Homo sapiens: one gene and its partners. The protein of the gene in region 1 interacts with the protein of each later gene in a biochemical or structural test. Each region holds a gene or a part of one and is shown in the gene's direction. Other genes may lie near its edges. The genes, in order: UBE4B, UBE2D3, CDKN2A and OTUB1.

What was found.
Region 2: the proteins of UBE4B (region 1) and UBE2D3 form a complex in vitro, tested with the Homo sapiens proteins (5 studies listed by BioGRID and IntAct, with this or other methods).
Region 3: the proteins of UBE4B (region 1) and CDKN2A form a complex in vitro, tested with the Homo sapiens proteins (one study listed by BioGRID).
Region 4: of the proteins of UBE4B (region 1) and OTUB1, one has a biochemical effect on the other in vitro, tested with the Homo sapiens proteins (one study listed by BioGRID).

What each region holds. Positions count from the first base shown.
Region 1 is NC_000001.11:10,027,980-10,035,960, forward strand, and holds the start of UBE4B (ubiquitin conjugation factor E4 B), read left to right. Parts: upstream 1-4,978; 5' UTR 4,979-5,691; coding exon 5,692-5,715; intron 5,716-7,981. UniProt on the Homo sapiens protein: Ubiquitin-protein ligase that probably functions as an E3 ligase in conjunction with specific E1 and E2 ligases. May also function as an E4 ligase mediating the assembly of polyubiquitin chains on substrates ubiquitinated by another E3 ubiquitin ligase.
Region 2 is NC_000004.12:102,796,537-102,803,559, reverse strand, and holds part of UBE2D3 (ubiquitin-conjugating enzyme E2 D3), read left to right. Parts: intron 1-921; coding exon 922-999; intron 1,000-2,000; coding exon 2,001-2,106; intron 2,107-3,984; exon of another isoform or gene 3,985-4,059; coding exon 4,060-4,153; intron 4,154-4,582; coding exon of another isoform or gene 4,583-4,631; exon of another isoform or gene 4,632-4,632; intron 4,633-6,099; coding exon 6,100-6,145; 3' UTR 6,146-7,023. UniProt on the Homo sapiens protein: Accepts ubiquitin from the E1 complex and catalyzes its covalent attachment to other proteins. In vitro catalyzes 'Lys-11'-, as well as 'Lys-48'-linked polyubiquitination.
Region 3 is NC_000009.12:21,971,842-21,978,778, reverse strand, and holds the start of CDKN2A (cyclin-dependent kinase inhibitor 2A), read left to right. Parts: upstream 1-3,921; 5' UTR 3,922-3,951; coding exon 3,952-4,101; coding exon of another isoform or gene 4,102-4,302; exon of another isoform or gene 4,303-4,375; intron 4,376-6,937. UniProt on the Homo sapiens protein: Acts as a negative regulator of the proliferation of normal cells by interacting strongly with CDK4 and CDK6. This inhibits their ability to interact with cyclins D and to phosphorylate the retinoblastoma protein.
Region 4 is NC_000011.10:63,989,438-63,996,460, forward strand, and holds part of OTUB1 (ubiquitin thioesterase OTUB1), read left to right. Parts: intron 1-7,023. UniProt on the Homo sapiens protein: Hydrolase that can specifically remove 'Lys-48'-linked conjugated ubiquitin from proteins and plays an important regulatory role at the level of protein turnover by preventing degradation.

The sequences.
Region 1 (7,981 bases):
CGCTATGTTGCCCAGGCTGGTGCTGGCCTCAGGCGATCCCCTCACCTCGGCCTCCCAAAGTGCTGGAATTACAGGTGTGAACCACTATATCAGGCCCAAATTAAAAGTTTTTTTTTGTTGTATTTTTGTTTTGTTTTGTTTTTGTGCTGCAAATTATACAATCAAGAAAGTGAAAAGACATCCACAGAATGGGAGAAATATTTGCAAATCATATATCTGATAAAGGACTAGTATCCAGAATATGTAAATAACTTTTACAACTCAAAAAATAATAATAAAAGAAAAATAGTTTGGGAATCGTATAAATATAAACAACATAAAAACAAACAAAAGAACTCTTATAACTCAACAATAAGACAAATAACCCCTCCCCCTCCCCCTCCCCCTCCCCCTCCCTCTCCCTCTCTTTCCATGGTCTCCCTCTGATGCCAAGCTGAAGCTGGACTGTACTGCTGCCATCTCGGCTCACTGCAACCTCCCTGCCTGATTCTCCTGCCTCAGCCTGCTGAGTGCTGCCACGCCTGACTGGTTTTTGTATTTTTTTGGTGGAGACGGGGTTTCGCTGTGTTGGCCGGGCTGGTCTCCAGCTCCTAACCGCGAGTGATCCGCCAGCCTCGGCCTCCTGAGGTGCCGGGATTGCAGACGGAGCCTCGTTCACTCAGTGCTCAATGGTGCCCAGGCTGGAGTGCAGTGGCGTGATCTCGGCTCGCTACAACCTCCACCTCCCAGCCGCCTGCCTTGGCCTCCCAAAGTGCCGAGATTGCAGCCTCTGCCCGGCCACCACCCCGTCTGGGAAGTGAGGAGCGTCTCTGCCTGGCCGACCATCGTCTGGGATGTGAGGAGCCCCTCTGCCTGGCTGCCCAGTCTGGAAAGTGAGGAGCGTCTCTGCCCGGCCGCCATCCCATCTAGGAAGTGAGGAGCGTCTCTGCCCGGCCACCCATCGTCTGAGATGTGGGGAGCGCCTCTGCCCCGCCGCCCCGTCTGGAATGTGAGGAGCGCCTCTGCCCGGCCGCAACCCTGTCTGGGAGGTGAGGAGCGTCTCTGCCCGGCCGCCCCGTCTGAGAAGTGAGGAGACCCTCTGCCTGGCAACCGCCCCGTCTGAGAAGTGAGGAACCCCTCCACCCGGCAGCCACCCCGTCTGGGAAGTGAGGAGCGTCTCCGCCCGGCAGCCACCCCACCCGGGAGGGAGGTGAGGGGTGCCTCTGCCCGGCCGCCCCTACTGGGAAGTGAGGCGCCCCTCTGCCTGGCCACCACCCCGTCTGGGAGGTGAACCCAGCAGCTCATTGAGAACGGACCATGATGACACTGGCGGTTTTGTGGAATAGAAAGTGGGGAAAGGTGGGGAAAGGATTGAGAAATCGGATGGTTGCCGTGCCTGTGTAGAAGGAAGTAGACATGGGAGACTTTTCATTTTGTTCTGTACTAAGAAAAATTCTTCTGCCTTGGGATCCTGTTGATCTGTGACCTTGCCCCCAACCCTGTGCTCTCTGAAACATGTGCTGTGTCCACTCAGGGTTAAATGGATTAAGAGCGGTGCAAGATGTGCTTTGTTAAACAGATGCTTGAAGGCAGCATGCTCATTAACAGTCATCACCACTCCCTAATCTCAAGTACCCAGGGACACAAACACTGCGGAGGGCTGCAGGGTCCTCTGCCTAGGAAAACCAGAGACCTTTGTTCACTTGTTTATCTGCTGACCTTCCCTCCACTATTGTCCTATGACCCTGCCAAATCCCCCTCTGCAAGAAACACCCAAGAATGATCAATAAAAAAAATAAATAAAAAAAAAGAAAAAAAAAAGAAGACAACCCAATTAAAAATGAACAGAGGGAAAAAGAAAAACAAAACAAAAAAACAAAAACACACACAAAAAAACAGAGGGCCAGGTGCAGTGGCTCACGCCTGTAATTCCAGCACTTTGGGAGGCCGATGTGGGTGGATCACTTGAGGTCAGGAGTTTGAGATCAGCCTGGCTAACATGGCAAAACCCTGTCTCTACTAAAAATACAAAAATTAGCCGGGCGTGGTGGCCCATGCTTGTAATCCCAGCTACTCGGGAGGCTGAGGCAGGAGAAGCGCTTGAACCCAGGAGGCAGAGGTTGCGGTGAGCCGAGATTGTGTCAGTGCACTCCAGCCTGGGTGACAGAGCAAGATTCTGTCTTAAAAAAAAGAAAAAAGAAAAGAAAGAGAAAAAGCCGGGCACAGTGGCTCATGCCTGTAACCCCAGCATTTTGGGAGGCGGAGGTGGGCGGATTACGAGGTCAAGAGATCCACGAGAGCATCCTGGCCAACGTGGTGAAATCTCATCTCTACTAAGAATACAAAAATTAGCCAGGCATGCTGGTGGGCGCCTGTAGGCCCAGCTACTTGGGAGGCTGAGGCAGGAGAATCACTTGAACCTGGGAGGTGGAGGTTGCAGTGAGCTGAGATCGCGCCACTGCACTCCAGCCTGGTGACAGAGCAAGACTCCATCTCAAAAAAAAAAAAAAAAAAAAAAAAGAACAGAGAATATGAATGAATAGGTATTTGTCCAAAGAAGATAAACCTAAGCAGATGTTCAACATCATTAGCTCCTAGGAAAATGAAAAACAAAACCACAAAGAGATACCATTTCACATCTACTGGTGTGGCTACAATAAAAAAGACAGACAAAAACCATTGTTGGTAGAGATGTAGAGAAGTTAGAACCCTCACACATTGCTGGTGGCAGTGCAGCTGCTTTGGAAAACAGTTTGACAGTTTCTCAAAAAGTCAAACATGTAATCCTGCAATTCCTCTCCTAGGTATATGCCTAAAAGGAATAAAAATAAAAACATATGTCCAAACAAACACTTGTACATGAATGTTTATAGCAGCATTACTCATAATTGTCAAAAGGTGGAAACAACCCAAATATCACTATGAATTGATAAACAAAATGCGCTACAGCAATACAGTGATACATTTGGCATTAAAGAAATGAAGTACAGATATATGCTACAATATGCGTGAACCTTGAAAACATATGCTAAGTGAAGGAAGCCAAACCCCAAAGGCCACACGGTGTATTGCTCCACTGATGTGAAATGTCCAGAATAGGCAAATTCACCAAGACAGAAGGTAGTTATCCTGCAGGAGTCTTTTTTTTTTGTGACGGAGTCTCGCTCTGTTGCCCAGGCTGGAGTGCAGTGGCACGATCTCGGCTCCTTGCAACTTCTGCCTCCCGGGTTCAAGCAATTCTTTGCCTCAGACTCCCAAGTAGCTGGGATTACAGGTGCCCGCCACCACGCCCTTCTAATTTTTGTATTTTGTATTTCACCATCTTGGCCAGGCTGGTCTTAAACTCCGGACCTCTTGATCCACCCGCCTTGGCCTCCCAAAGGGCTGGGATTACAGGCGTGAGCCACTGCGCCCAGCCCGGGAGTGACTGTTAATGGCTTTGAGGGTTTCTTTTTGGGATGATGAAAATGTTCTGAAATTGGACAGTGAGGATGACTGAACTGTGAACATAATAAAACCACTGTACACCTTAATTGGGTGAATTGTATGGTATGTAAATTAGATGGCAATAATGAGGTTAAAAAAAGTAAACTTTTAACATCAATGTCACCAGGGGTTCAAGTTCTGGCTTACACAGAATTCCTTTCCTGGAGAGCAGATAATATGCAAAGCCAGCAGTGATTTATTTTTACTCACAAATTCCTTACATATTTTTACTCACAAATTCCTTACATATCTAGTAGTCAGGTTCCTATTTTAAGCATGTAGCAAATACATTGTAACTCTTAATTCTGGAATGCAGTCTTTATGGCTTAGTGAGCCATCCAATCCACTTATAGTCTTCGTCAGCGGCAAAATCTGGAATTTCATGGTACTGTTACTTTGATCGCTCAACTTAGATTTATATTTTATAAATATATATATACATACATATATATATATTTTTTGAGATGGAGTCGCGCTCTGTCGCCCAGGCTGGAGTGCAGTGGCGCGATCTCGGCTCACTGCAAGCTCCGCCTCCCGGGTTCACGCCATTCTCCTGCCTCAGCCTCCCGAGTAGCCGGGACTACAGGCGCCCGCCGCCACATCTGGCTGATTTTTTGTATTTTTTAGTAGAGACGGGGTTTCACCGTGTTAGCCAGGATGGTCTCGATCTCCTGACCTCGTGATCCGCCCGCCTCGGCCTCCCAAAGTGCTGGGATTACAGGCGTGAGCCACCGCGCCCGGCCAAATATTTGTATTCTTGTGCACCGGAGGATGGTTTTCCCCCACTGACTCCAAACGTCTTCCTTGCATTTGCTGTGTACAATTCAGTGATTTGGGTCTCTCATCCATTTATACTTTCAAATTTTACCAATACTTTTTGAACACACTTAAAAAAAAAAAAACCCAGGAAGTATCTCTAAAAGGCCAAGGTAAAATAAAATGAATGGGAGTTCTTGTGTTCGAGTTTTCTTCCAACTGGGCTTTCCTGGAGGAGGTGGAAGAGTGTGTGGCAGATGTTTCAGAAAATGAGCGCTCAATACGGTAGATCACGCTCCCGGGGTCAAGGAGACGTTTTCCGTTTTCTTTTCCCTCGCTTAGGCGGCGGGCGCGCACAGTCCAGTGGGAGCGATGAGGTGTTTCTAGGCCCCCAAGTCACAGAAAAGCAGGCGATTGGGAACAACGGAGGCGCGGCGGGCCCCCGGGCCGCGGGCCAGCGCCACCTTCTGGTGGATCTTCCCCGACGCGAGTCTGGGAGTCGTCCCTCCCCTTGCCAGCCTACCTGGCTCAGGCCCGCCGCGCCCGCAGCCCCAGCGCGGTCGCCGTGGCAACGCCCCGCCCAGCCGCCAGCCTCCCTTTGCCCCTCCCCACGTCCGGCGCGGCTGCGCGGGACGGGGTGGGACGGAGGCGGGGAGAGGACGCAGGCGAGAGGAACTCGGCGGCGCGGCGCCCGCGGCCTATTGGCTGCCACGTCCCGGCGCCAGAAGCCCCGCCTCCCTGACGGGGGTCACGTGATCCCTTTCAAAGATGGCCGCCCTGTTGTTTTGATGAATAATACTTGGTGGGGCGAGGGGGAAAGAGTAGGGGTGGAGGGGTAGGAGGATTTACTCTTCCAGCGAGAGCTACGCGCATCCCATCCTCCCCCTCCCCCCTACCCGGGCTCCGGCGTGGAGGCGGGGCGTGGCCGGCCTGCTTTGGGAGGGGAGGGGCTTCCCTTACAGTGCTGGGCTCTGCCAGGACGGCTGTGGGGTCGCCTTACCTCGGGGTATCCACTCTGCAGTCGACCAGTTCCCGCCAGGAGCAAAGGGTAGGAAGGAGAGCAGGATCTGCTGTAGGAACGCAGCTACCGCGCCACTATCACGAAGAAACAGCAGGCTCGGGGCACGAGACGAACTGGAGACCGCGCTGCCTAGCTGGGTAACCTGGGAAGCAGAGGGTAATAAGTGGCGCCTTAAGACAACCCTGTAGCAGCAGCAGTGGCGGCCAAAGGAGGCTGCTCAGGGAACAAGCGGCTGTAGTAGTCTGTGGGGCGACTGGAGTGACCGAAGCCAAGGCAGTTTAGTGCCTCTCGTGTTCTTATTTTTTAACCTCTGACTATGCAATTCTGAAACCTCCCCCATTCGGGGGACCAGACAGCCTGATAGACACCTTCCACTCTCCTTCCTCCCGCCGTGGTCTCGAGAACAGAAGGATCTCTCCTTAACGCCTTTCACCATTAAGAGGAAAGCGATGGAGGAGCTGAGCGCTGATGAGGTGAGGAGGTTGGGGGACACCTTGAGGGATTAGTTGGCAACTCGTTAGCGCTTTGGACAGGGATGGTATTGCGCCAGTGCTGTCTGGCCTTTGGGCTTGGAGAAGGAACGGAGATGATATTTTCCAAGAATAACGTGACTCCCCGATAGGGTCTCTGGTTTTGTTCTCCTTTATTCTGTTGCCTTCTTTCTTCATTCTGAACTCCATTTGCTTCTTTCCGAGTGTTCTTTTAGGGTATGAACAAGAGGAGAGAGCATCTTGAGGTGTTTATTCTTTTCTTCAGGGTATGCGAACAAGAAGGGCGAGATTTACATGAAGTTAAAGTGTGTGTGTGTCTGTGTCTTCAGGAATTTAAAGAACAATTTTGGATGGAATGAGAATGTATGGTGGGTGAATATTTTTAAAGAAAGCATTTGAAATTCCAGATATGTGTGGTTATTGCACTGTATAAGCTTGATTAAACATATATTTTTGCTTGAGGGGTGGTTTACAGACAGATTCTTTGATATTTAACAAAATATGTATCTTCTCCACAGTTTAGAGAATTCCAGTTATATTCTGGTACTTAATAGACCACTAATGACTTCTGGCATTCTTCTGTTACATTCTATCTTTTCCTACTTCTTGAATCTTTCAAACTTGTGTTTTGCTGTAGCAGAGACTGAACGGGAAGCAAGTGGAAGCAAATGACTTTCTAAACTCTCTCCTGTTCTCATTTCTTAAAGGAGTTATACAGATCTACTTCTTGATGTTTTAAAGATTGTTTAATAAATTAGGTTGTTGTAAAAAAAAAAACAACCAAAAAGCAGTGGCAATTAGGGTACAAGGAATTTCCTATGATTCTACTGCCTTTTCTCTTCCTTTTTGCAAATTAGGAGCTTCCCTTTCAGGACCCCTACTGGCCATACCCTCTTTAGCCTACCTCCACATTTCTTCACTGGTTCATCATGTAAACTTCCCTACAGTATTAGGAAAGCAGTCATCCATCAAGTTGATTGTACTACAAGACTTCCATGCTCCAGTTTTAGCTACAGAGTACTTAGTGTGTTTACTTAGGGACTGAAATTCTCCTGGGATAGGACACGCAGTGGTGTGTTAAGGGTCAGGTAGGAAAGGAAGCAAATGATTTTGTTGATTGTGATACTTGGATACTTGGTTTGGAAAATCAGGACTGCCCATTCGGCGTTACTTTGTTTTTTTCGAATACAGCAGAAATGTAATCTTAAGTGAAGAGAATATTACACAGTTTCTTTCATTCGGTAGGAAATCTCCTTAGAATCGCTTTATTTTATGTGGGTTTTTTTTTGTTTGTTTGTTTTTTTGAGACGGAGTCTTGCTCTGTCGCCCAGGCTGCAGTGCAGTGGCGCGATCTCGTCTCACTGCAAGCTCCGCCTCCCGGGTTCACACCATTCTCCTGCCTCAGCCCCCTGAGTAGCTGGGACTACAGGCGCCCGCTACCACGCCCGGCTATTTTTTGTATTTTTAGTAGAGATGGGGTTTCACCATGTTGGCCAGGATGGTCTCCATCTCTTGACCTCGTGATGCACCCGCCTCAGCCTCCCAAAGTGCTGGGATTACAGGCGTGAGCCACCGCGCCTGGCCTGTTTTATGTGGTTTTTTAAAAGTTTCTCTACCTCCCCCGTTTTTCATTAATGTTAATTCTAGTGAGTAATTTCTCTTAAGGCAGAGATACTGTTTTTTTTTTTTTTTTTTTTTTTTTGAGGCGGAGTCTCGCTCTGTCGCCCAGGCTGGAGTGCAGTGGCGCTATCTCAGCTCACTGCAAGCTCTGCCTCCCGGGTTCACGCCATTCTCCTGCCTCAGACTCCGGAGTAGCTGGGACTACAAGCGCCCGCCACCACTCCCGGCTAGTTTTTTGTATTTTTTTGTGTTTTTAGTAGAGACGGGGTTTCACTGTGTTAGCCAGGATGGTCTCGATTTCCTGACCTTGTGATCTGCCCGCCTCGGCCTCCCAAAGTGCTGGGATTACAGGCGTGAGCCACCGTGACCGGCCAGAGATAGTTTTTTTATTTTTTTTTATTTTTTATTTATTTTATTTTATTTTTTTTGAGACGGAGCCTCGCTCTGTTGCCCAGGCTAGAGTGCAGTGGCGCGATCTCAGCTCACTGCAAAGCTCCGCTTCCCGGGTTCACGCCATTCTCCTGCCTCAGCCTCCCGAGTAGCTGGGACTACAGGCGCCCGCCACCACGCCCGGCTAATTTTTTGTGTTTTTAGTAGAGACGGGGTTTCACCGTGTTAGCCCAGGATG
Region 2 (7,023 bases), on another chromosome or scaffold:
GATTAATTGAATTAATGTTTATTTATTTTACAGAAGGGTAGGAATTAGATGAGCTGTGTTAGTGTCAGGCCTGTTTTTTATGTGCCTGACATCCAGAATGGGCATAGTGAAAGGCTCATATATAGCTGTATATACAAAGCCTTTCTAATAGAGGGGAGTCAGTGTTGGTAAAAACCCAGTTCATGTAAGTTGTAAAACATGTCTTCGGATTGGTTCTTTGCATACCCAGAAGCAGTTAGGCATTCCACATTTTAACTTTAAATTCCTGAGTAGGTCAGTATCTTTGATCATTAAGTGGTCTTCAAAAGACTTGTGTTTGAATCTTGGTTCTATCATTTACCATTTGTACACTAGACTAAGTTCTTTAAGCCTCATTTTTCTCATGCATAAAATAGGGGCAATGCATGTATTTTCTGGTATTGATTAAAATGAGAAGCTTAGGCTTTTCTCTGTTCTCCTCTTGAAGGTGGTGTGTGTGTGTTACCTGGAATAGCTAACATTTGGTTTGCCAGTGGGCAGAATGGACTGTTGTGAAGCCATTTGTACACATCTGGCTATTGGAAGAAATAATCTACATGTGTAAAATTTTGTTTACAGATTATTCTGAAACATGATTATGTAGGCTTTATTGCTGTGTTGTACTTTTGAGAATTGAGATCTAGAATACTTGCGTTTCTGGATAACTTTTTAAAAAAACATTTTGGTGACGTGTAAAATGACTAGATAAATTAGGGTTTATTACTGTATAAGTTTTAAGTTTTTTTCTATTACTATAGACTGAATTTTCATGGAATAGATTATTTATTGCAGTGTAAATAGGTGATTTGGGTTCATTATTAGAGAAATGCTTGGAAACAAATGTTACGGAATATTTAGCAATAATATTTTAAATTTGAGTTAAGCATACTTTTCTTTTTACAGAATGACAGCCCATATCAAGGCGGTGTATTCTTTTTGACAATTCATTTTCCTACAGACTACCCCTTCAAACCACCTAAGGCAAGTATTTTCCCTCAAAATCTGTTAGTATAGATTTATGCTTTATTTCAAAGGAATAGAGCATTCTTGGAAGATAGGGTTCTGTGTAGGCTGTATATATATGTTGAATTGCACTCATGTATAGATGCTGACTCTTAACCTTTGGTTTAAAGAGCTAGACCTCAGTTTGAGCTTTGTAAATAGGAATAAGGTTTGCCTTTTCTTTAATGTTGCAAGATTCAGACCATGTGGAAGCTTCCGCCCTCATCTGTATTATTGTTACACAGATTCTGATTTTTGGGCTTTTGTTGTCTTGTAAGCATCAAATGTCCAACTTCAATTTATATTTGCACGTATTGTTACAGCATATGCTTATTATGCTTATAGTTTTGTATACGTAAGTGTAAATTTGTGAAAACTTAGAGTTGCTTAGTGCACTGGTTTATAGGTATTAAAAGCATATTATCCTTCACTTTTCAGTCATTAACATAAATTCAACCTGTATGAATAACTAGAAAAGGTAATATACAAAGGTCATAAACATGTCACTATAACAATCTCTAGTAATGTTATAGGTGCAATGTGATGGTTTCCATTTTTGTGATTCAAGTTTATGTTTTATGTACGGTGGAAATGCAGACTCAGGTGTACCTGTGTAACTTAATGAAACTTTAAATGAGATGGTCTACAAATTTTGGTTACATCCAAAAGTTAGGGCTTTTATAAATGAATGTGTTAAATACCTTTAAATTGCCCTTTGATTCATGATATGGTAGGGCCACAGTAACCTTTAGAACTTTACATCATATGAGTAATGAAATTTTTATCCAAAAGTTTAGGTTTCTGTTGTAAAAAGAGGAGGCAGGGGGTTGTGGTCAGATTGTAAAAATCAGTTTCTATAATATTTAGAACTTCTATGCTAATAGATGACATTTTTAACATTGTGGCTTGATTATTTTAAGTTTTGCTTTAAAAGATGTTTGTTTTTATTTGAATAAAATACTTAAAAGTTTTTGTTTTAGGTTGCATTTACAACAAGAATTTATCATCCAAATATTAACAGTAATGGCAGCATTTGTCTCGATATTCTAAGATCACAGTGGTCGCCTGCTTTAACAATTTCTAAAGGTAAATATTTCTAGTGAAATAAGCTGTTCTCATTGTCTAATAAAGCTTCATTCTTAGATCTACTTATCTGAGTATTTTTATTATGGCAGCTTTTTGGTAAGAGATGGGGAAGCAATAAAGTTACTTTTATAATTTTTGTTCTTTTAGTGGTGTTGATTAAAGATACTTTGTGAGAAGTTGTTAAAATTCAAATTGTGGTGAGTAGGCATTATTTGCCTAATGAGTTACCTTCATCTCATCTTATAATAGCAAAATTTATTTTAATAGACTTCTGTATTTTTCAATCCCAAACCACTTGGACATCTCACACTAACTTGCGGCCTTTTTACCAAGAATGGTATGATATACCTAAACTTAATAGAGCTTTTGAATCCTGAGGTTTCCACTCTAGGAAAATTCTGATTTTGCTTTCCTGGGTTAATTTTTAGACAAATCTTCAGTCATGTTTTATGTAACCATGATAGGTTGTTTCTACCTAATGACAGTCTAAAATTATATAATCTTCGAAAGATCTGTAGATCAATTCTGGTCTCTTAATAGGTATCTGTTACGTTATATGTAACAAGTTTTCCGGTCTCCGCATGAATATCCCAGGTGAAGTTGTAATAATTAACACTATTTCACCATTAATTGTTTTTTGATTTTATGAGTTCAGTAAGTACAAAAAAGCTTTTTCAAAAGGCAAGGCATTGTATAAAAGTTTCATATGTGTATATACTGCACTTGAATCTCATGGAGAGAGACTGTAGCAGTAGCATTTCCCAAACTTTATTGAGTAGAATCACTTAAGGGAGAAAAAGAAACAACTTAGGCAGATGCTGCCATAATTCGAGTGTTTTTAAAATTTTACACCTGTTTTTCACCTTCTTGGATGCTTTCTAATTTCTTTTCAAATCATGCTACATACCTAAATATCAGTTTCCAAGTTTTTCTACTACTGCTGGGAGTGTACAGTAACACTGAAAACTGTTTTTGTAAGGGCAGATTGAATTGGTATTGTTTTGTCGTTAAAGCAACTTACTTTTTTGGCAGCCATACTTTGCTAACTTATTAAACTAGCAGTCACAACTGAAGCTACCTTTTTTCTGTGAGTTATTGTATAGCCAAGTCTCCTATATTAGGTAATTTTATATTCTGCTGTATTTGGGGTTTGAAATTAAATTTGCTGTAGTCAATAAATATGTGACAGTGTTGTCTTTTTTATACTATTGCTTTTTTTAAAAAAAAATCGGTCAGAACCATTTCAAGCATTTATATCTTAACATTTTATAACAGCACCACCATATATGGTGACTGGCACATAGCAGGCACTCAAAGTGAATGCGATCTATGTTCCTTAATGCTTGACATCTTATACATCAGTATGTTGAACTGGTTAAGGTAAAAACTAGAGCTGATGACTCACTTAGTACTAAAGAGATTTTGGCATTGTATTTAACTAGTACTCTTGGGAATATGGTTTCTTGCTTACAAGTTCAAGGAGACATTTAGTGGAGCACTTGAGGGTTTTTCTCAGAAATTGCCAAGACAACGGCTAAGAATGGATTTTTCATCATGCCTAATGGCTATGAATATGGCATGAGTGTTACCTGCATATTCTTGCTAAAGTCCCCCCCCCCCCAGCCACTGAGTACCAAGAAACTCAAGTTCTAATATCATTTATGCCTATTTAAAATATATATATTAATATGGCATCAGTTGCCTATCTTAGAAACTATTTTTATGGCTAGTCTGCAGTGAATTTCATGCCACAAAACCCTGTTTTTAGCACTTCTTACTTACCAGGAGCTTGTCTTCTGTGAAACAAAATCTCTGTAAAACTGTGTCTCATTGAGATAAAGATACAAACTAATAAAAGTCTTTTGAGGATTGAGTTTTGTAATACACGGTTTAGAAAAATTTATTTATCCAAACTCCTGAAACTGGGTAACAGATGTTTTTGTTTTCTTGCAGTTCTTTTATCCATTTGTTCACTGCTATGTGATCCAAACCCAGATGACCCCCTAGTGCCAGAGATTGCACGGATCTATAAAACAGACAGAGATAAGTAAGTATGTTAAAAAGTTATTATAAAAGTGGTTTTACTTAATGAGTTAGGCTTATACTTTGCTTGTGACAGTGCCAAGAAGACTTGATATTTAGTAAGATAATAGTTAAAATATGGAGAAAGCTATTGAAATGTGGTTATTTAAAAAAACTTAACTAGGCTTTAGCTTATGTGACAGTGAATGCTCCCCTCTAAAATGTTTTATTGTTGTTTTTTTTTTCCTAGCGTGTTAAACAGTATCACTTTATTCTCAACTTTTGGGGAAGAAAGCAAATTTTTCTTTACCCCAAGCATGTTTTTCCAAAAATGTTAGTACTATTGTAAAAATTTGGTCTAAATTTCTCAAATATTTGAATTATATTTATGTTCAACTTAACCATTATAACTTTCATATGTTATAATTAATGCTAAGTGTACTTGTTCAATTAGGTACAATAGGTTAGCAAGAGAGTGGACAGAGAAATACGCTATGTTGTAGGGTAAGAGGATCTGCACTCTATGGTGCGCTTATTATGGTACTGCCAGCACTTGAGTGCTGCATGCGTTAAGGCACTGTATTAACTAACAAAAGGTAACAAATATGGCAGTCTTCTGAAAACTGTACATTTAACTGCTTGGTCTCTGTTTAACGTGAAAGTAAATATCTGGTAGCCGTTATTGCTTGAAAGTACTGCATGGCAAAGCAGTTACAATAGCACTAGTAAGAAATGGGAATTTATGTAGTATCTTTTTTTTTTTTCAAACTATCATGGTGTTTAAATTTTAGCTTGAGACTTTGTACCAATCCTATACAGAATGTGGTGGTTTAGTTCAAATTTTGCCGGGAGATAGTAATGTAAGGGAAAAACACTTTTAAGCCTAAGCATCTAAACTAAATGTTCATTACTGACAAGCATGCATTAGCGTCAGCTGTACTTTGTGGCTCCCTGTATGCTAAATAAAGCCTTTGTTTTAAAGTGCTGGCTTTTTGAGAGAGTATCCTTAGGAGATGACAATGAATTGGTAGAAAGAACTTTTTAAAAAGTTTAGGAAAGTTGTTGGACCATATTTGGTTCTTGGTTTGAAATAAAGCTAGTTAATATTTAAACAATATAAAAATTCTCCTGTGCATATATATATATATATATTCATTTCTTAAGGTTATCACTGTTTTTTGTTGTTGTAAGTAGTCTATGGCATGAGTATAATCCAGGGGGAAGCTGATAGTATTTATCAATGTTAGTAGTCTTCCTGAGTAATAACCTTGCTTGTGTGTGAATTACCTGTTGATCTTTTTAAACGAAGATGCCCTTGTTGTACTCAACAGGTCTCAGTGGTGCTTATTAGCCTCAGTTACCACACTTATTAAAAGTAACACGTGATTCTGATGAACACAACCACTCACACACACACCCCTTTTGAAAATTACTGCCCTTTGTCATTCTGCCCAGTGTCATCTTCCCCTTCTGCCTCTACCTAAGTCCCAAAGCCATTTTTTCTTGTAATATCCAGGACCAAGTAATTTCCCAAACTCTAGGATTCAGATAAAATTGTTCTAGTAAAAGCCTAGTTCTGGCCTTGGTGGAAATTTCTGTGGATAGATAGAATGTGTATACTATTTTAACATTTGTCCATAATGAACTGTAAAAATTTCTTCACGTTAAAATTAGAGCATGAGCTCGGTGGTAGAGAAAGAAAGGGTCTTTTGATTTTTGTTAGCCTCCCAATTTTCAGTGCTGCTTTCTTAGTTGTTTTTAAAATACTACTTTCAGAGCATCAGGCTCTCATTTCCCACATTGCTTTGAGTACCAGTGCTATTTCTCCCTTGTTGGCTTTTATTCTAATCATAGTCATTAGAGATGACTTCATGATGAGTCTGGAGATGATAAAATGGAAATCTTTCCCTTCCATTTAAAGTATTAGGAATTCTTTATTTTAACTTTTAAAAATAACATCTTTATTTACAGGTACAACAGAATATCTCGGGAATGGACTCAGAAGTATGCCATGTGATGCTACCTTAAAGTCAGAATAACCTGCATTATAGCTGGAATAAACTTTAAATTACTGTTCCTTTTTTGATTTTCTTATCCGGCTGCTCCCCTATCAGACCTCATCTTTTTTAATTTTATTTTTTGTTTACCTCCCTCCATTCATTCACATGCTCATCTGAGAAGACTTAAGTTCTTCCAGCTTTGGACAATAACTGCTTTTAGAAACTGTAAAGTAGTTACAAGAGAACAGTTGCCCAAGACTCAGAATTTTTAAAAAAAAAAATGGAGCATGTGTATTATGTGGCCAATGTCTTCACTCTAACTTGGTTATGAGACTAAAACCATTCCTCACTGCTCTAACATGCTGAAGAAATCATCTGAGGGGGAGGGAGATGGATGCTCAGTTGTCACATCAAAGGATACAGCATTATTCTAGCAGCATCCATTCTTGTTTAAGCCTTCCACTGTTAGAGATTTGAGGTTACATGATATGCTTTATGCTCATAACTGATGTGGCTGGAGAATTGGTATTGAATTTATAGCATCAGCAGAACAGAAAATGTGATGTATTTTATGCATGTCAATAAAGGAATGACCTGTTCTTGTTCTACAGAGAATGGAAATTGGAAGTCAAACACCCTTTGTATTCCAAAATAGGGTCTCAAACATTTTGTAATTTTCATTTAAATTGTTAGGAGGCTTGGAGCTATTAGTTAATCTATCTTCCAATACACTGTTTAATATAGCACTGAATAAATGATGCAAGTTGTCAATGGATGAGTGATCAACTAATAGCTCTGCTAGTAATTGATTTATTTTTCTTCAATAAAGTTGCATAAACCAATGAGTTAGCTGCCTGGATTAATCAGTATGGGAAACAATCTTTTGTAAATGCAA
Region 3 (6,937 bases), on another chromosome or scaffold:
CACCCCATGTCTGCCCTTAGTTTCTGAGCTTGTTGAATGAATGAACAGGTGGTAGTCTTTTTTTGTTATAAGACTGATCAGAATTAAGACAGGTTTAAATTTCACGTGTAGAATTTTCAAAACTGCAAAGGCAGTGCAAATCTAAAAAAAGAATGGCATTCTCAGGAAAGAGGAAAAGTAAGTGTGAGAATAATAATAACAATAACCAACAAACTTTAGTAAATTTAGTAAATGTAGTAAATTTTTACATTAAAAGCTTTTGGACATACATTATCATATTTTATGGCCACATGAAATATATTATAATCCCATTTTGCACATAGGAAATCTGAGACTGGCATAAGGAGCACAGAGATCCAGGACTTTATATTTTCATTCTTCTAGGATTTTGCACCTCAGGTCGATATGTATGAGTAAACTGGGAGTATAATGGGCTCTTTAACAGAAAAACTAGGAAAGTTTTCCCACTATTATTAATTATTTACATAATATTTTTTTAATTTTATTATTATTTATACTTTAAGTTTTAGAGTACATGTGCACAATGTGCAGGTTTGTTACATATGTATACATGTGCCATGTTGGTGTGCTGCACCCATCAACTCATCATTTAGCATTAGGTATATCTCCTAATGCTATCCCTCCCCCCTCCCCCCTACATAAGATTTATAATGGATAATGGACTTCAATTTCTAGAGCAAAATGGCCCCACCCAAGGATGCCATAATCCTTCCAGAGCTCTACTGCAAGATATGAGATATACATATCTAAAACTTGTTCTTGGTATTTCCAAAGCAGTCAACTTTTACACCTGTTTATAATGCATCCAAATGTTGTTTTTATATGGTTGCATCTCCCATCTTCTTCACCAATAGCTATATATATTTTTCACAAGAGCTGAAAGAGTTCTTGATGTAGGAATCCATGGTAGAGTTTCAGAGAAATCCCTGAATTCACTGAAAGTTTTATCTAGAAATACATGTGCAAGTGAACACATCTTTTTTAAAAAAAATCATTACCTACTTTCTTTTTTGAGAAGAAGGTATTTATTTCAACAGACTCTTGAAGGAGCCTACTCTTCCCACTCTCCCACCCCCATTAAGAACCACTGTAGGCCGGGCACGATGGCTCATGCCTGTAATCCCAGCACTTTGGGAGGCTAAGGTGGGTGGATCACCTGAGGTCAGGAGTTCGAGACAAGCCTAGCCAACATAGTGAAACCCCGTCTCTACTAATAATACAAAAATTAGCTGGGTATGGCAGCATGTGCCTGTAATCCCAGCTACTCGGGAGGCTGAGGCAGGAGAATTGCTCGAACCCGGGAGGCGGAGGTTGCAGTGAACCGAGAGAGATCGTGCGGTGCCATTTCACTCCAGCCTGGGCAACAGAGCGAAACTCCATCTCAAAAAAACACACAAAACAAACAAACAAAAAGAAAGAACCATTGTATTAGTGATGGAAATGTGTTCCCTCCCTCCCATCCTGGCAACCACTTTCTTCCTCCTCCATCATAAAATATCTTAAACTAAACTAAAATAATTTTATTTATCGATAGTTTGAATTTTCCCTATCATTGCTACACAGCTAATTGAGAGGTACCCCGAGGAAAATATAAATGGTACAGTAATGCATTGTAGATTTTAATAACATACTTGACATCCCAAATTGTTTTCATTGGCTTCATTTTAAAAACTACATGTTTTAAAATCAAGCAGACACTAAAAGTACAAGATATACTGGGTCTACAAGGTTTAAGTCAACCAGGGATTGAAATATAACTTTTAAACAGAGCTGGATTATCCAGTAGGCAGATTAAGCATGTGCTTAAGGCATCAGCAAAGTCTGAGCAATCCATTTTTTAAAACGTAGTACATGTTTTTGATAAGCTTAAAAAGTAGTAGTCACAGGAAAAATTAGAACTTTTACCTCCTTGCGCTTGTTATACTCTTTAGTGCTGTTTAACTTTTCTTTGTAAGTGAGGGTGGTGGAGGGTGCCCATAATCTTTTCAGGGAGTAAGTTCTTCTTGGTCTTTCTTTCTTTCTTTCTTTCTTTTTTTCTTGAGACCAAGTTTCGCTCTTGTCTCCCAGGCTGGAGTGCAATGGCGCGATCTCGGCTCACTGCAACCTCCGCCTTCTCCTGGGTTCAAGCGATTCTCCTACATCAGCCTCCGAGTAGCTGGGATTACAGGCATGCGCCACCAAGCCCCGCTAATTTTGTATTTTTTAGTAGAGACAGGGTTTCGCCATGTTGGTCAGGCTTGTCTCGAACTCCTGGCCTCAGGTGATCCGCCTGTCTCGGCCTCCCAGAATGCTGGGATTATAGACGTGAGCCACCGCATCCGGACTTTCCTTTTATGTAATAGTGATAATTCTATCCAAAGCATTTTTTTTTTTTTTTTTGAGTCGGAGTCTCATTCTGTCACCCAGGCTGGAGGGTGGTGGCGCGATCTCGGCTTACTGCAACCTCTGCCTCCCGGGTTCAAGCGATTCTCCTGCCTCAGCCTCCTGAGTAGCTGGAATTACACACGTGCGCCACCATGGCCAGCTAATTTTTGTATTTTTAGTAGAGACGGGGTGTCACCATTTTGGCCAAGCTGGCCTCGAACTCCTGACCTCAGGTGATCTGCCCGCCTCGGCTTCCCAAAGTGCTGGGATTACAGGTGTGAGCCACCGCGTCCTGCTCCAAAGCATTTTCTTTCTATGCCTCAAAACAAGATTGCAAGCCAGTCCTCAAAGCGGATAATTCAAGAGCTAACAGGTATTAGCTTAGGATGTGTGGCACTGTTCTTAAGGCTTATATGTATTAATACATCATTTAAACTCACAACAACCCCTATAAAGCAGGGGGCACTCATATTCCCTTCCCCCTTTATAATTACGAAAAATGCAAGGTATTTTCAGTAGGAAAGAGAAATGTGAGAAGTGTGAAGGAGACAGGACAGTATTTGAAGCTGGTCTTTGGATCACTGTGCAACTCTGCTTCTAGAACACTGAGCACTTTTTCTGGTCTAGGAATTATGACTTTGAGAATGGAGTCCGTCCTTCCAATGACTCCCTCCCCATTTTCCTATCTGCCTACAGGCAGAATTCTCCCCCGTCCGTATTAAATAAACCTCATCTTTTCAGAGTCTGCTCTTATACCAGGCAATGTACACGTCTGAGAAACCCTTGCCCCAGACAGCCGTTTTACACGCAGGAGGGGAAGGGGAGGGGAAGGAGAGAGCAGTCCGACTCTCCAAAAGGAATCCTTTGAACTAGGGTTTCTGACTTAGTGAACCCCGCGCTCCTGAAAATCAAGGGTTGAGGGGGTAGGGGGACACTTTCTAGTCGTACAGGTGATTTCGATTCTCGGTGGGGCTCTCACAACTAGGAAAGAATAGTTTTGCTTTTTCTTATGATTAAAAGAAGAAGCCATACTTTCCCTATGACACCAAACACCCCGATTCAATTTGGCAGTTAGGAAGGTTGTATCGCGGAGGAAGGAAACGGGGCGGGGGCGGATTTCTTTTTAACAGAGTGAACGCACTCAAACACGCCTTTGCTGGCAGGCGGGGGAGCGCGGCTGGGAGCAGGGAGGCCGGAGGGCGGTGTGGGGGGCAGGTGGGGAGGAGCCCAGTCCTCCTTCCTTGCCAACGCTGGCTCTGGCGAGGGCTGCTTCCGGCTGGTGCCCCCGGGGGAGACCCAACCTGGGGCGACTTCAGGGGTGCCACATTCGCTAAGTGCTCGGAGTTAATAGCACCTCCTCCGAGCACTCGCTCACGGCGTCCCCTTGCCTGGAAAGATACCGCGGTCCCTCCAGAGGATTTGAGGGACAGGGTCGGAGGGGGCTCTTCCGCCAGCACCGGAGGAAGAAAGAGGAGGGGCTGGCTGGTCACCAGAGGGTGGGGCGGACCGCGTGCGCTCGGCGGCTGCGGAGAGGGGGAGAGCAGGCAGCGGGCGGCGGGGAGCAGCATGGAGCCGGCGGCGGGGAGCAGCATGGAGCCTTCGGCTGACTGGCTGGCCACGGCCGCGGCCCGGGGTCGGGTAGAGGAGGTGCGGGCGCTGCTGGAGGCGGGGGCGCTGCCCAACGCACCGAATAGTTACGGTCGGAGGCCGATCCAGGTGGGTAGAGGGTCTGCAGCGGGAGCAGGGGATGGCGGGCGACTCTGGAGGACGAAGTTTGCAGGGGAATTGGAATCAGGTAGCGCTTCGATTCTCCGGAAAAAGGGGAGGCTTCCTGGGGAGTTTTCAGAAGGGGTTTGTAATCACAGACCTCCTCCTGGCGACGCCCTGGGGGCTTGGGAAGCCAAGGAAGAGGAATGAGGAGCCACGCGCGTACAGATCTCTCGAATGCTGAGAAGATCTGAAGGGGGGAACATATTTGTATTAGATGGAAGTATGCTCTTTATCAGATACAAAATTTACGAACGTTTGGGATAAAAAGGGAGTCTTAAAGAAATGTAAGATGTGCTGGGACTACTTAGCCTCCAATTCACAGATACCTGGATGGAGCTTATCTTTCTTACTAGGAGGGATTATCAGTGGAAATCTGTGGTGTATGTTGGAATAAATATCGAATATAAATTTTGATCGAAATTATTCAGAAGCGGCCGGGCGCGGTGCCTCACGCCTTGTAATCCCTTCACTTTGGGAGATCAAGGCGGGGGGAATCACCTGAGGTCGGGAGTTCGAGACCAGCCTGGCCAACAGGTGAAACCTCGCCTCTACTAAAAATACAAAAAGTAGCCGGGGGTGGTGGCAGGCGCCTGTAATCCCAGCTACTCGGGAGGTTGAGGCAGGAGAATCGCTTGAACCCGGGAGGCTGAGGTTGTAGTGAACAGCGAGATGGAGCCACTTCACTCCAGCCTGGGTGACAGAGTGAGACTTTGTCGAAAGAAAGAAAGAGAGAAAGAGAGAGAGAAAAATTATTCAGAAGCAACTACATATTGTGTTTATTTTTAACTGAGTAGGGCAAATAAATATATGTTTGCTGTAGGAACTTAGGAAATAATGAGCCACATTCATGTGATCATTCCAGAGGTAATATGTAGTTACCATTTTGGGAATATCTGCTAACATTTTTGCTCTTTTACTATCTTTAGCTTACTTGATATAGTTTATTTGTGATAAGAGTTTTCAATTCCTCATTTTTGAACAGAGGTGTTTCTCCTCTCCCTACTCCTGTTTTGTGAGGGAGTTAGGGGAGGATTTAAAAGTAATTAATACATGGGTAACTTAGCATCTCTAAAATTTTGCCAACAGCTTGAACCCGGGAGTTTGGCTTTGTAGTCCTACAATATCTTAGAAGAGACCTTATTTGTTTAAAAACAAAAAGGAAAAAGAAAAGTGGATAGTTTTGACAATTTTTAATGGAGACGGGAGAAGAACATGTAGAAAAGGGGAAATGATGTTGGCTTAGAATCCTAACTACATTGGTGTTTAATATAGGAACATTTATTTATATAACATTTTAAAGTACTAAATTCATATTAGTATATTATCAAATGGATATATTATCAAATGGGTTTAAGCATCCTACACATTTTAATTCAATTGATTCATTTTCTTTTTGCTTTGGATTTCTATCATGATTTAAATATTTACATATGGGTTACTTTTTAGATTTTTCATACTATGAAATATAAGAAAAACCTTTAAGGCTAGTTTTATGACCAAGACGAAGGACTTCATTGAATACACAAAACAATAAATATACTGCAACATTTTGTCTTTCTTTTTGTAGCTGCAATTTGGTTTGCTTATACTTTCTCTTTGTCTCTTTGAAAACTGAGTCAGTTTCACTTTCTCAGGACAGGATTTAATAACCATAATATAATTTAGTATAATTCCTTGATTTAGGCAAATTATGCAATTTGTGTTTAGTATGAAATGTACCTAAAAATAAGTAACTCCTCTTTAACACCACCATCCTCAAACTAATATAACAAATAACAGTTATCCTAAAATAAATTGTCTACTTCCACCATGCAGCACTCAAATTTTAAGGTTGCTATGACTGCAGACAGTATTTTAAAATTCCTCTCTGGAAATGGCTTTGTTTCCAAGATGATTTAGGAACCAAAGAGGTGACCATCTCTTGTTTAATGAACTCTCAAATCATAAACCTGGGAAGTGTTTTAGTTTCCTACTGCTGCTGTTACAAATTATCACAAATGTGTTAGCTAAAACAAACACAAAATTATTATTTTACAGTTCTAGAGATCAGAAGTCAAAAATGGGTCCACAAGGTTTCATTCCTTTTGGAAACTCTAAGGGGCAATCTGTTTCCTTGTCTTTTCCAGCTTCTAGTGACCATCAAATTCCTTGGCTCATGGTCTCTGTATTTTCTCTGTGGCCTGTGCTTCCATTCTTGTATCTTCTCTCTGACTGTGACCCTCTAATAAAAACACTTGGGGTTATGTTGGGCCCACCCTGAAAATTCTGGATAATCTCCCTCAAGACCATTAATTAAATCACATCTGCAAAGCCTCTTTTGCCACATAAGTTAATGTATTAAAAGTTTTTGAGGATTAGGACATAGACATTGGGGGTGGGGGGGCATTATTCAGCCTACCACAGGAAGGAATTTTAGGGTTAATTAAACTAGCCTTCTTATTTTATACTTGAAGAAATTGAAGTTTTGGAATTGGAGAGCATTATGCTAAATGAAATAAGCCAAACACAGAAAGACAAATATCACATGTTCTCACTTATCTGTGAAATATAAAACAATTACATTCTTAGCAGTAAAGAGTAGAATGGTGGTTACTAGAGCTGGGGGGTGGGAGGAATGGGGAGATGGTAATCAAGATATAAAGCCTCAGTTAAGATGGGAGGAATAAGTTTGATTGTTTTTTTTGAGATGTGTTTCATAGCATGATGAATATAGCTAAATAGTAAATCCCAAATGCTCTCATTTGACAAAAATGTCAAATATTTGAGATGATGGATAGGTTAC
Region 4 (7,023 bases), on another chromosome or scaffold:
ATCTTCTGGCCGGGCACGGTGGCTCACGCCTGTAATCCCAGCACTTTGGGAGGTTGAGGCGGGCAGATCACCTGAGGTCAGGAGTTCGAGACCAGCCTGGTCAACATGGCGAAACCCCATCTGTACTAAAAATACAAAAATTAGCTGGGAGTGGTGGTGCGCGCGTGTAGTTCCAGCTATTGGGAAGGCTGAGGCAGGAGAATTGCTTGCATCTGGGAGGCGGAGGTTGCAGTGAGGCAAGATCCCGCACTGTACTCTAGCCTGAGCGACGGAGTAAGACTCCGTCTCAAAAAAAAAAAAAAAAAAGGCCTGGCGCGGTGGCTTACACTTGTAATCCCAGCACTTTGGCAGGCTGAGGCGGGCGGATCACGAGGTCAGGAGATCGAGACCACGGTGAAACCCCGTCTCTACTAAAAATACAAAAAAATTAGCCAGGCGTGGTGGTGGGCACCTGTAGTCCCAGCTACTCGGAGAGGCTGAGGCAGGAGAATGGTGTGAACCCGGGAGGCGGAGGTTGCAGTGAGCCGAGATCGCGCTACTGCACTCCAGCCTGGGCGACAGAGTGAGACTCCGTCTCAAAAAAAAAAAAAAAGCATCTTCCCATAGGGCGATTGTGAGATTGAGGGAGGTGCAGGCTGGGCAGGAGCTGATGATCTCGGTGCCCATACGGGGGCTGACCAGGCTGGTGCTCAGTGGGGTAGGAGGGTTGCCAGAGGGCTGTTTCCCACAGCTTGCCTCCTGGATCTTTGTGGAGAGGCAGGCAGCAGTGGGGTCAAGGGGCCACAGATTTCCTCAAAGGGCCCTGCTGCATCACTCAAACGGAGGCAAACTTCACCACCCACTTTCTAGGTCTGTGAGCTGGGAGGATGACATGTGAAATGGGGCCAGGCATGGTGGCTCAAGCCTGGAATCCTAGCACTTTGGGAGGCTGAGGCCAGAGGATCGCTTGAGCCCAGGAGTTCAAGACCAACCCAGGCAACATAGTGAGACCTTGTCTCTCCAAATCAAAAAATTACTGGGTGTGGTAGCACATGTCTATAGTCCCAGCTACTCAAGAGGCTGCGGTTGGAGGATCACTTGAGCCCAAGAAGTTGAGCCATGATTGTACCACTGCACTCCAGCCTGGGTGACAGTGAGACCTGTCTCTTAAAAAAATAAAAAAATAAATAAATAAATAAATAAATAAATGTGACAATGGGTGTGTGGAAACAGTATCTGGTAGGCTCAGTGTAGGTGTTTAGTAAATGTTTCTCTTCCCCTGGAAGATGACAGATGCTTAGAGTCCTCTACTGGTAGGGGAGGCCTCTGTGGCCAGGTAGGTAACCCAGGTGATTGAAGGTGGCCAGGAAGTCAGATGGTGAACAAGGAGGGCAGCACAGCTCAGTATCAGCCAGACACTAATAGGGAGCAGAGGCCCCTGGGGGAAATGGGAGTGTCCATACCATTGTCTCCAGATCTGTTTTTCCAAGAGAAGCCAGAGGTAACCACAGCTCCTGACTTCTAACAGTTGGCAGCTAATTCAAATTTTAAATGTGTGGGCCAAACACACCTGCAGGCCAGATCCAGCTGTGTGAGATCTGTGCACTGTGATCTACTGAGGCCCCCTCCTCAGGGAGCTAGATTTCCTCAGGGTGCCTGTGGAGAGATGAAGGCACTGGCTGTGGAGCCTGATGGGCCTGGGTTCCAGTCCTGGCCTCACCACTTTGAGCTGTGTGATCTCGGGCAACACCCTGAAGCTCTTGGATCCCCTGTTCTCTCTGGGCGGGGACATTGTCTGCCTCACAGGGCAATTGTGAGGGTTGAAGGAGATGTTACGGGCGGTTGTAAGCAGCGGGTTACAAAGCTGCTCCTCTCCCCATACAGGGGGTGAGCTTCATTCATTCATTCCTCTTATGTCAGTGTCCTCCAGTGGGACCCCCCATGCCAAGGCCTGCCGCTCATGCTAGACCACCCTGGTAAAGTGGACAGGACAGGCTGGGCCCCAGGTTCTTCCCACGGAGTCATCAAACATTTGGATGTCCAGAGCATGCTGTCTAAAAGGCCTCTCTGTGCCCCCAGCACCCGCATTCTGTATGCTGTGCCTGAGCCCACCTTTTCTCCCTGGGCAGAGACAGCTGTGGCAGCAGAGCCCAAGCAGAGAGAGCTCCTCTCTCTCTAAATGGGCTCTTGTGAGGATCAATTAGGATGACGTTTATTCGCCCTGTGCCAAATCCCTGGCACAGAGAGTGTGCTCACAATGGCCATGGTGGCTGCTACAGTAGCAGTGGTGATTTGGGTTCTTTGTGGTCCTGGTGTGCTACTCATTTAACGTTTATTGAGAACGGACTGTGGTCCAGGCGCTGTTCTAGGTACTGAAGATAGAGCCATGCAGACAAAGTCCTGCCCTCACAAAACTTACAGTTCAGGGTGGAAAGACATGATAAGCCAAAGAGGGCTCTGGGACATGTGGGGTATCAGAAGGCGGTGAGTGCTGTGGAGAAAAATGAAAAGGGGATCGGGGCCGGGCGTGGTGGCTCACGCCTGTAATCCCAGCACACTGGGAGGCTGAGGCAGGTGGATCACCTGAGGTCAGGAGTTCGAGACCAGCATGACTAACATGGTGAAACCTCGTCTCTACTAAAAATACAAAATTAGCCGGGTGTGGTGGCGCATCCCTGTAATCCCAGCTACTTAGGCTGAGGCAGCAGAATCTCTTGAACCTGGGAAGTGGAGGTTGCGGTGAGCCGAGATTGTGCCACTGCACTCCAGCCTGAGTGACCAGAGCAAAACTCCACCTCAAAAAAAAAAAAGAGGGGATTGGGAGTGGGAGCATTTGCCATTTTAAACAGGGCTTGGTGAAGGCCTTGCTGATGAGGTGGTATTTGAGTAATGAACAGAAAAAGACCGGGGAGCGAGTCACAGGCGTCCGAGAGCAGTGCCCACCCAGGCCCGAGGCGAGAGGGCACCTGGATGGTTTGAGGCCAGCATGGAGGCCAGTGTGGCTGGTGGAGAATGAGGGGTTGGGGCTGGGGAACTGAGCGGGGCGGGGCGGGGTGGGGTGTTGTGGCGAGAGAAAGGACTCTGAGGGAGATGGAGATAGGGTGCATCTGGCAGGTGACTCTGGTCACTTTTCTTTTTTTTTGAGAGAGAGTGTTGCCCTGTCACCCAGGCTGGAGTGCACTGGAGTGCAATGGCACCATCTCAGCTCACTGCAACCTCCACCTCCCGGGTTCAAGCAATTCTCCTGCCTCAGCCTCCTGAGTAGCTGGGATTACAGATGCTCGCCACCATGCCTGGCTAATTTTTGTATTTTTAGTAGAGGTGGGGTTTCACCATATTGGCTAGGCTGGTCTTGAACTCCTGACCTCAAATGATCCACCCACTTTGGCCTCCCAAAGTGCTGGGATTACAGATGCCCACCACCATGCCTGGCTAATTTTTGTATTTTTAGTAGAGGCGGGGTTTCACCATATTGGCTAGGCTGGTCTTGAACTCCTGACCTCAAATGATCCACCCACTTTGGCCTCCCAAAGTGCTGGGATTACAGGCCTGGGCCATCACGCCAAGCCGACCCTGGCCATTCTCTTGCTGGGGTGAGAATAAACTCCAGAGGGTGAAGGGGAGGCAGGGACACTGCCAGGAGACTTGTGCAGTAAAATCTGCTGGAGGCGGGCAGCGGGTGGTAGAGGTGAGGAGTAAGAAGCAGTTGGATACCAGACATATTGAAGGGATGGATATGGTGATGGAGTCGGCAGCGACTGGAAGGCTTTGGGTGCTGTGGGTGACTGAGGTGGGGCAGCCTCGGGGAGGAGCAGTTGTTCGGAGGTTGATCTCAGCTGCACTCAGTGGAAATGCCTGTTGGACAGTTCAGAGGAGGTGTGGTGAGGCTGGTAGATAGGAGGATCGTAATTGGAGTTGAGAGTTGAGATTCACACTTGGGGCTATTTAAATCCTTGAGACTTTGGCTAGGGGCAATGGCTCATGCCTGTAATCCTAGCACTTTGGGAGGCCAAGGTGGGTGGATCACTTGAGGGCAGGAGTTCAAAACCAGCCTGGCCAACATGGTGAAACCCCATCTCTACTAAAAATACAAAAAAATTAGCCGGGCATAGTGGCGCGCGCCTGTAGTCCCAGCTACTCAGGAGGCTGAGACAGGAGAATTGCTTGAACCCGGAAGGCGGAGGTTGCAGTGAACCGAGATCGCGCTACTGCACTCCAGCCTGGACGACAGAGCGAGACTGTCTCAAAAAAAAAAAAAAAAAATTGCTTGAGACTGATGTCGTCAAGAGAGCAAGTATAATTTACATTTTTGTAGAGATGAGGTCTTGTTGTGTTGCCCAGGCTAGCCTTCAACTTGATCCTCCCCCCTTGGCCTCCCAAAACACTGGGATTACAGGTGTGAGCCACTGTACCTGGCCATGAGAGTGAGTGTAGTTTCAAAGAGGAAGCTGGCCGGGTGCGGCACTTTGGGAGGCCGTGGCAGGCAGATCACATGAGCCCAGGAGTTCGAGACCAGCCTGGGCAATATGGTGAAATCCCGTCTCTACAAAAAATACAACAATTAAATGGGTGTGGCGGTGTGCACCTGTAGTTCCAGCTACTCTGAAATCTGAGGTGGGAGAATTGCTTGAGCCTGGTAGGTTGATGCTGCAGTGAGCCGTGATCTTGCCACTGCACTCCAGCCCAGGTGACATAGAAAGCCCTGTCTCAGAAAAGAAAAAAAAAAGAAAAGTGGAAGCTGTCCCAGGCCTGAGCAGGGCGGGGTAGGCACATGGGAGACAGCCCTCATGCCCGTGGTCACATGGCAGGCACAGTGGCTAAGTGTGCAGTGACTGTTTTCCTTTTTCCTTTTTTGAAACGGAGTCTCCCTTTGTTGCCCAGGCTGGAGTGCAGTGGAGCGATCTCGGCTCACTGCAATCTCCACCTCCTGGGTTCAAGTGATTCTCTTGCCTCAGCCTCCAGAGTAGCTGGAACTACAGGTGTGTGCCACCACGCCCAGTTAATTTTTGTATTTTTAGTAGAGACGGGGTTTCACCATGTTGGCCAGGATGGTCTTGATCTCTTGACCTCGATATCTGCCTGCCTCAGCCTCCCAAAGTGCTGGGATTATAGGCGTGAGCCACCACACCCAGCCTCAGTGACTGTTTTCTTGCAGGTGACACACCATGTCTCGAAGGGTGCTGTATGGTTTGGTGGCATCCCTGACCCTCAGAGCTTAGAGAGATGAGGAGTGGCCTTGGAGGCAGGAGGAAGACAAGGAGAGGGTGGGGGCGCCAGCCCAGGGAAGGAGGCATCTAGGCAGGGCCACAGCCAGTGGCCTCAGTTCTGCTAAGGGGCCAGTGGGGGTGGGGCGCTGGGTTTGCCCCCTCTGATTGAGGGCGTTCAGCTGACCTTGGCTAGAGCAAAAGCCTCCCGAGGGAGAAAAGAGGTGGAGGCAGCACGGACAGCTTCATGAGGAGTTTTGCTGTAAAGAAAGCAGAGAAATTGAAGGGTAGCCAGACAGAAACGTAAAGTCCAGGATTCCCTTCCTTTTAAAGAAGTAGCTGAATGTGTATATGCTGTTGGGTCTAAACCAGTAGGGTGGGAAAAATTGATGATGGGGGTACTTCCTAGGATGATGTCTTTTTTTTTTGAGATAGGGTCTCACGCACTCTGTCACCCACGCTAGAGTGTAGTGGTGCCATCACAGCTCACTGTAGCCTCGACCTCCTGGGCCCACACAGTCCTCCGACCTCAGCCTCTCGAGTGGCTGGGACCACAGGATGCACCACCATGTGCAGCTCACTTGCTTATTTTTCAAGATGGAGTTTTGCTCTGTTGCCCAGGCTGGAGTGCGATGGCGCAATCTCGGCTCACTGCAACCTCTGCTTCCCGGGTTCAAGCGATTCTCCTGCTTCAGCCTCCCGAGTAGCTGGGATTACAGGCATGCACCACCATGCCGAGCTAATTTTATATTTTCAGTAGAGATGGAGTTTCGCCATGTTGGTCATGCTGGTCTCGAACTCCCGACCTCAGGTGATCCAACCACCTCAGCCTCCCAAAGTGCTGCGATTACAAGCGTGAGCCATCGCGCCCAGCCACTTATTTTTTTTAGAGAGACGGGGGTCTCACTGTGTTGCCCAGGCTGGTCTCGAACTCCTAGGCTTAAGCGTCCTCCCACCTTGGCCTCCCAAAATGTTGGGATTATAGGTGTGAGCCATGGCGCCCAGCTTGGAATGATGTGCTTGAGCCTGAGGGTGGGGGTGGGCTAGTGTGGAGTGGAGAGGCAGCTTAGGTGGCAGCTGGAACAGATCCTCTGAGGATTGTGGGAGGAGGCCAAAGGCAGATGTGCTGGTGGGGGCTGAGGAAAAAAGACAAGGTCATCAGCTGGGGGTAGGAGCAAGATGGGTAGGGGAGAGGGGAGGGTGCCCAGGCCAGGGGAGTGAAGTGTGCTTGCCAGGTGAAGTGTGCGTGGTGGGTGGGCACCTGTAATCCCAGCTACTTGGGAGGCTGAGGCAGGGGAATCGTTTGAACCCGGGAGGTGTAGGTTGCAGTGAGCCGAGATCGCGCCACTGCACTCCAGCCTGGGCAACAAGAGCAAAACTCTGTCTCAAAAAAACAAGTAGAGGAGGGAGGCTGTTTCTAGCCCCAGGAGGGCTGCGGGCAAGGCTTAGAGGTGGGGGAACTCTTCTCAGTGTGGCGGGAGCGGGGCTGAGCTGGGCTGTGCAGAGGGCCCCAGCCACCTGGTTGAGGCGTGGAGGCCAGCACTCCACCCTGGCCCTGACTTGCTTGCCCTGAAGTTCTCTTGGGCTGAAAGACTGGAGGAAACGCATTGCTCAAGGACATTCACTCACCTGTTGTTGTACAGTCCTGTAGGCCCCGCAGAACTTTAGTGACCCATGCAACTAGTTTGTCCTTAAGTGCCCAGCTTCCTGCCGTCTTTTGGGAGGACTCTGGGCAGTGGGCCGCTCCCATTGCCACATTCAGCAGCCTGTTTCAGGGACCCAGGGTGGCAGGTGGCTGCTGGGAGCTCAGTTGCCACCTTTGGAGTGTGACCTTTGCTGG